Homo sapiens: one gene and its partner. The protein of the gene in region 1 interacts with the protein of each later gene in a pairwise test. Each region holds a gene or a part of one and is shown in the gene's direction. Other genes may lie near its edges.

Region 1 (4,444 bases):
TGCACTGCAGCCTGGGCGACAGAGCAAGACTCTGTCTCAAAAAAAAAAAAAAAAAAAAAAAGTTATTAGCTAAAGACCTGGAATCAATTGAAGGGAATGTCTGAGTTAAGATAAGGGGTTTTGGAGACCAATGTTCTTATTATGCAGATGAAACCTCCAGGTAGCAGGCTTCAGAGAGAAACGATTGTAAATGTTTCTTACCAGACTTCAAAAGGTGCCAAACTCTTAGTTAATTCTCTACTGGATCAAGGAAAACACTTTGAAAGTGAAGGGGATTCTTTACAGGATGTAGATTTTCTTCACAAAAGACAGCTTTACAGGGTCATTTCAAAATATGTCAAAGAAATACATTTTAGGGTAAAATACTTCAGTTTATTTCAGGGCCTGTTATCTGTCACATGAGACTATACTAGAGTCAGGTTAGAATTTGATGTCTTATTGCTATAAAGAGTTTGTTTTGGGCTGGGCGTGGTGGCTCACGCCTGTAATCCCAGCACTTTGGGAGGCCGAGGCGGGCGATCACGAGGTCTAGTTCAAGACCAGCCTGGTCAACATGGTGAAATCCCGTCTCTACTAAGAATACAAAAATTAGCCGGGCGTGTTGGCACGTTCCTGTAATCCCAGCTACTCAGGAGGCTGAGGCAGGAGAATTGCTTGAACCCGGGAGGCGGAGGTTGCAGTGAGCCGAGATCGGGAAACTGTACTCCAGCCTGGGCTACAGAGTAAGACTCCATCTCGGAAAAAAAAAAAAAAAGTTTTAGTCAGTCTCAAGATCTCTGTTTTAATGTTAATGCTGGTCCGTAGTGCCTGAATTCCAAGGGCATAACGAGGCAAGTCCGATCCCCTGCTTCCCATCATGGCCTGAACTAGATTGCCAGGTTTTCTTTGGAATGTTTTGGCTGAGAGAAGTGGTCCATTCAGTTGGTTGGGGGACTTAGAATTTTATTTTTGGTTTACAAAACTGTTGCATGAATTGACTCAGTTAATTCACTGAATTTATAAATTACAAACTTTTACCATTCTCAACTGATAAATTGAGGCAACGATTTAAGTATAACTTGAGCAAGTCCATATAGAGTGGAGCCAGGAACGCAGACAATGAGACACCATACCCCATGGTCTTAGGTCACAGTCATTCAGTGGGAGACAGGGGCTATAAATTCATTAGAAGGTTAAGTTAGGAATTAAGTAATTAGGTAAGGAATTAGGAATTCAGTTAATTAAGTTACAAATTGTTAAATATGGAGGAATTTATCATGTAGTTGGGGTACTAAGACATAAGAGAAAATAATAAAGAAAAACAGGAGCGGCCGGGCGCGGTGGCTCACGCCTGTATTCCCAGCACTTTGGGAGGCCGAGGCGGGCGGACAGCTTGAGCTCAGGAGTTCGAGAACAGCCTGCGCAACATAGCGAGACCCCCGTTTCAAAAAACACACGAAAAAATTAAAATTAAAAAACAAACAAACCAGGCGCAGAGCGGTTGTGGAGAAGGGAAGCGAAGGGTTGGAGTTTCGTTTCGTGGGAACCATAGAGAAGGGCCAGCCTCCCGGCTTCCTAGAGAGGCTGTAGGGACCGACGGCCGGCCAGCTAATGCTTCCGTCTTGGCCACCTTGCGAGCGCTCGGGTTGAGTTTCCCGGGCTTCCCTGACTCGGCTACCTGTTCTGGAGGTCAGGCTTTGGGCCCTTGCAGAGGTCGCCGAGGGGCCCGCGCCGCCGCCAGAGCCTGGGCCCAGTCCCCAGTCTTCAGAGACGCCCTCGACCTTCCTGCTCCGAGGAGCTGGCCTGATGTCCTCGGGTCGCGGTATTCATGGGGAGGATGGGAGCCGTGACTATAGGGTCTCCTGCTTCCCAGGGTGGAGCGTTCAGATCCCGGTTAGGTCTTCGGTCAGCATCACCCGCTGGGACATTAAGCGTCTTACCCTTGTCACCCGGGGCTGGGTCACCACTTATATTTTGTCCTGCAGCCTGTGGTTTGTTTAGGGGTCCCCGTTATATCCTACTTTCTCTCCAGAGACTTGTTTTGGGTTTTTGCCATGAACACTAGAAGCATTCAATACAAACTGTTTAGTAATGCATTCATAGTGGGGCCAAGAATTTTTTTTAAAAAACAGCCACGAATCCACTGCAGTTCTTGACTCTTACTTTACAGATATTCTTTCTAGAGTTTCCAGTGTCACCAAGCAGATCTATAGGAGAATATGCAGAGGGAGCATTTGCAACATCCCATGAATCAGTGGAGAGGGTGAATGACAGCAGCTAGTGTGCCAAGAATATCTGCAATGCTAGTGGCAGGAGACAGAGGGGAAGAGGCGGCAAGTGTAGGAGACGAGACAGATCAGTCTCATTGTGGTTCTCTCTTAGCTCCGCAGGTTCTTACTTTTTCAAACCTAGAGGGCAGTGCATGAAGCCAGGGGTCATCAGCCATGCTCCAGACAGTGTGGTTCCAGGTGAGCAGAGCTTTCTTTCAGCTTTCCATACTCAGAACAGATATGGAAGGTCAGTACAGCCCCAGTAGCCTGACTTGGCCAGTCTCATGCTTAGTTTTACATCCTTCAATAAAGTATGTAAAAACAGTATGCGAGGGGAGTTGACGAACGAGAGTAGGTGAATTTGGGAGAGTCAGGTAGGTTGGAAAAGAAGGAATGAATTATCCTAGAAAGTGGGAATCTGCATTCATGAGAACTGAAAGTGTGGCCTGGAGATGAGCAGCTTTTGCATTACAGAGGGCTCTTGTTAGGCAAAATGTCAGGCCCCCTCCCCAGATCTCCTAAATCAGAATCTACATTTTTACAAGATCTGGAAAATTAAAGGGCAGATTAAAATTTGAGGAGTGCTAGTCTGCGTTCACAGTACACAAAGAAAAGCCATTTCTGAGGTTAAATAGACACTTCCAAGGGAGGAGTTTACCCTGCAGACCACTCAGTTAAGGTACAGTGAAGCCAGAACTGGAAACATGTGGAAAATGTAGATTGATGAGGGAGATGTATTTTTGGAGGAATGATGAGTTTGGAGCTGAAGCCAGTGCCTTTAGCTCAATGCGAAGACGTCAGTCTAACCTCTGTGAGAGTCTATATCCTTTCTTGGCTACAAATTCATGTAGCATTGGGAGGACTTTTCCCTCCAGTTTTCTTGGTGGTAGATGATGGTTTTACTGGATTTTTCTCCAGTGTCCTAGATCATGGAATGAGAAAGCTGAGTTTATCATGTAATGGATGTATCTTGTAATGAGAAAGCTCCATCCCAAGGACTTAAAAACAATGTGTGTGTCCTTTTGGTGGATATTGGACCATCCACTTCTGTTCGAGAACTTCAGCAAAAATTCATTCCTACAAGTCAGGAAGTGTGCTGTGGGGGTATGCTGTGCTCTCCTGGTGCTTTGCCTGAAGTACAGAAATCACTTAGGATTAGATTCCCCAAAGAGGACCCCAAATGACAGTGGATTAAACGAGGTAAAGGCTTCTCTCTCATACAAAAGTATCAAGAGTCAATACAGGGCTAGTGTGGCAGCTCCCCTATTATGCTCTCAGGCTCTGTCTTTCTGCTCTACCATCCTAGCAGTGTCTCACCTGCTCTAGGCCACTTTATTGTCCAAGGTGGCTGCTTGATCTCTAGCCATCATGTGTGCATTCCAGCTAGAAGAGGAGCTGCCCAAAAAAAGATGAACCTCTCTCTTTTAGGAACCTTCCCATAAGTCCCCAACAATATTTATACTTGCATTTCATTGGCCCCACTTGGTTGCCCGGGTTGAGTGCAACCTCAAGTAAAATTAGGATTCCAATACTAAGAAAGAAAGGGGGTACACACACACCTGTCAGTCTTTGCTACAATCTCTAAGAGGAACATTTGTCATTTAGAATCTTCTAGGAAGTTCCCCCAATCTCATCTGTGGTTGTAGTAAGTGCTGAGATTTAGATGATATCATGTGCCAGGTGATATCTTCGTGCGTTACAGATAATAACTTAATGCCATTCTTGTAAGAGTCCTTTCAGATAATTACTATTGTTATCCCAGTTTTACAAATGGGGGCAACTGAGGCACAGAAAGTTTAATTGTCTCATCCAAAGTTAACAGCTAATGAGTATTAGAGATACTATTTGAACTTAGGGAGTCTAGCTTAGAGCAGGGTTTTTCAACCTTGGCATCATTTACATTTGGGCCAGATAATTCTTTGTTTGGGGGATGTCCTGTTCATTATAGGATATTCAGAAATGGCCCTGGCCCACTATCTACTAGATGCCAGTAGCACTACCATTACCACCACACTGCAGTTCTGACAACTAAAAATGTCTCCAGATATTGCCACATAGTCTCTGGGGGACAGAATTGCCCCCATGTTGAGAGCCATAGCCTTAACATCTGTGCCATTTGCCACTATGTTGTGCTGCCCCTGTAACCCACTTCCTATAGAAGGGAGTCAATAGCCCCACTTAATGGAGAAAGAGTA
Region 2 (3,190 bases), on another chromosome or scaffold:
AGAGGATCACCTGAGTCTTAGGAGGGTCGAGGCTGCAGTGAGCCGTGATCACACCATGCACTCTAGCCTGGGCGACAGCATGAGACCCTGTTTAAAAAATAATAATAATCGGCCAGGCGTGGTGGCTCACGCCTGTAATCCCAGCACTTTGGGAGGCCGAGGCCGGTGGATCACCTGAAGTCAGGAGGTGGAGACCAGCCTGGCCAACATGGCAAAAACCCGTCTCTACTAAAAATACAAAAAAAATTAGCCAGGCGTGGTGGCAGGCACCTGTAATCCCAGCTACTCGGGAGGCTGAGGCAGGAGAATCGCTTGAACCCAGGAGGCAGAGGTTGCAATGAGCCAAGATTGTGCCACTGCACTCCAGCCTGGGTGACAGAGCAAGACGCCATCTCAAAATAAAATAAGAATAATCTGCTTGGCTTGACAGGCATTTTTAATACCTAGTGCAGGCCTTATTTAACCACAACTAATTTTCACTGTATGTAATATAGTGCTATGCCCTCACTGGGAAATAAATATGTGTTGGTGCTGACAAAGTTGAACAGTTTGTTCACAGTTATCTCAAATCACATTTAAGACTCAAGAGTAAGAGGCCGGGCGTGGTGGCTCACTCCTGTAGTCACAGCACCTTGGGAGGCCAAGATGGGCGGATCACCTGAGGTCGGGAATTCGAGACCAACATGGAGAAACCCCGTCTCGACTAAAAAAAAAAAAAAAATACAAAATTAGCCGGGTGTGGTGGCGCATGCCTATAATCCCAGCTACTCAGGCTGAGGCAGGAAAATTGCTTGAACCCGGGAGGCGGAGGTTGTGGTGAGCTGAGATTGTGCCATTATACTCCAGCCTGGGCAACAAGAGTGAAACTCTGGTCCCAAAAAAAAAATAGTTAAGAGTAAACTCTCAAGCCAAGAGATTCTGTTTTAAATGTAGGTGTTTAAAGAAGGTATAGGCCAGGTGCAGTGGCTCACGCCTGTAATCCCAGCACTTTGGGAGGCTGAGGCAGGCAGATCACGAGGTCAGGAGATCGAGACCATCCTAGCCAACTTGGTGAAACCCCGTCTCTACTAAAAATACAAAAAATAATTAGCCAGGCGTGGTGGCATGCGCCTGTAGTCCCAGGCTGAGGCACAGGAATCGCTTGAACCCAGGAGGTGGAGATTGGAGGTTGCAGTGAGCTGAGATTGTGCCACTGCACTCCAGCCTGGCGACAGAGCGTGACTCTGTCTCAAAAAAAAAAAGAGAAGTATAAAGAGATATAATATTACTTTCCTGTTTTTGATTCTGTTTACAGCAAAGTAATAAAATTATTTTTGGTACACCTGATTTTTTTTTTTTTTTTTTTTTTTTTTTTTTTCTGAGGCAGAGTCTCACTCTTGTCGCCCAGGCTGGAGTGCAACGGCGTGATCTCGGCTCACTGCAGCCTCTGCCTCCTGGGTTCAAGCAATTCTCCTGCCTCAGCCTCCCGAGTAGCTGGGATTACAGGCGCCTGCCACCACGCCTGGCTAATTTTTGTATTTTTAGTAGAGACAGGGTTTCACCATGTTGGCCAGGCTGGTCTCAAACTCCTGACCTCAGGTTATCTGCCCACCTCGGCCTCCCAAAGTGCTGGGATTATAGGCGTGATCCACTGCCCCGGCTGATACAGCTGATATTGTCAGCATCTTACATTCCCAAGAAAGTCTCATGTTATAAAAGAATGTGGTCTCTATTTTTTTCCTGTTTCCAAGTTCTGCTTTGTTTTCCTATCTTCCAGGAAACAAACGTACTTGGATTTAAAGGTCCTAGGAAAATGTCTGTGATCATTCCTGGAATGACACTGAATCATAAGCAGATCCCCTATCAGCCACAAAACGTGAGTAAGAATGTATTTAAATCAGTGAAAGACTCTAAAAGACAGTAGTACAATACACAGAGATTAATACAAAAAAAAAAAAAAAGATTGAGCTTCCAGAGCCCCACACTGGAGATAGCTCCATACACTTCTTTAGGAAAGCTGCCCCTCCAAAACCTCAGGATAAGAGCAGTTGCAGAGTCATTGCCTTGAAACCATTTTTTCTACAAAGAGAAATGCTGGATGATGTAGAATAATTTTAAAAAAAACCTGTCTTCATTGTTGGCTTTCATTCTTCGCTTCTGGTTTACCCTTTCTGAAATGGAGAAAGTATTCTCCTACTCTACCTTCTACCTCGTAGAGTTGGAGTTCTCAGTACAAAGTAATGATTTTCCCTTTGGACAGAACCATGACAGTTTGCTCTCAAGGTGGCAGAACAGAACTATGGAAAATCTGGTTGAGCTGCACAACAAGGCCCCCGTCTGGAACAGTGACACTCAGTCCTATGTCCTCAACTTCCGTGGCCGGGTCACTCAGGCGTCTGTGAAGAACTTCCAGATAGTCCACAAAAATGACCGTAAGCCTCCAGGAGGGGTTGGGTGGGAAGAGGAGGACAGATGCTCTTACAGGATGGGAATGCACATTCCCTGTACATGATAGGAAGTGACAGTCAGCAGATAATCATGGAGGAGAGACAGGATTTCTTTGGAAAGATGAAACTACAGTTTTAGAGAAAACTTGTAAATCACTGTGTTGAGGAGGGGAGAGGAGTGTGAGAGAGATGCTATAGCAAATCAGAGAAGTTGGCTGGGCACCATGGCTCACGTCTGTAATCCCAGCACTTTGGGAGGCCGAGGTGGGCAGATCGCTTGAGACCAGCCTGGGCAACATGGTGTGAAACCCCATCTCTACAAAAAATAGAAAAATTAGCTGGGCGTGGTGGCAGGCACTTGTAGTCCCAGCTACCCGGGAGGCTGAGGTGGGAGCATCACTTGAGCCAGGAGGTCGAGGCTGCAGTGAGCTGAGATTGCATCACTGCTCTCCAGCCTGGGTGACAGCAAGAACCTGTCTCAGAAAAAAATAAAAAATCAGAGAAGTCATAGAGTAGGTTGTTTGGGAAACAAAGGCAAATGACCCCAATAAAGGTTCCTGGCAGCTCTAGCCTGCGGAGTTTATGACATTCCCAGCAAGCTGCTCTCTATTCTACAGAAACCTGGTGATTAACTGGCCTATTTGGAGGATTCTTTCTGTATCATAAATAGGATCCCAGCACTTTGGGAGGCCGAGGCAGGAGAATCACTTGAGCCTAGGTGTTTGAGACCAGCTTGAGCAACATAGTGAGACCCTATCTTCACA

What was found.
Region 2: the proteins of ZNF619 (region 1) and TULP3 interact in a two-hybrid assay, tested with the Homo sapiens proteins (one large-scale study listed by BioGRID and IntAct).

The regions. Positions count from the first base shown.
Region 1 is NC_000003.12:40,475,557-40,480,000, forward strand, and holds the start of ZNF619 (zinc finger protein 619), read left to right. Parts: upstream 1-1,565; 5' UTR 1,566-1,801; intron 1,802-2,361; 5' UTR 2,362-2,401; coding exon of another isoform or gene 2,402-2,423; coding exon 2,424-2,447; intron 2,448-4,444. UniProt on the Homo sapiens protein: May be involved in transcriptional regulation.
Region 2 is NC_000012.12:2,935,875-2,939,064, forward strand, and holds part of TULP3 (tubby-related protein 3), read left to right. Parts: intron 1-1,756; coding exon 1,757-1,855; intron 1,856-2,239; coding exon 2,240-2,411; intron 2,412-3,190. UniProt on the Homo sapiens protein: Negative regulator of the Shh signaling transduction pathway: recruited to primary cilia via association with the IFT complex A (IFT-A) and is required for recruitment of G protein-coupled receptor GPR161 to cilia, a promoter of PKA-dependent basal repression machinery in Shh signaling.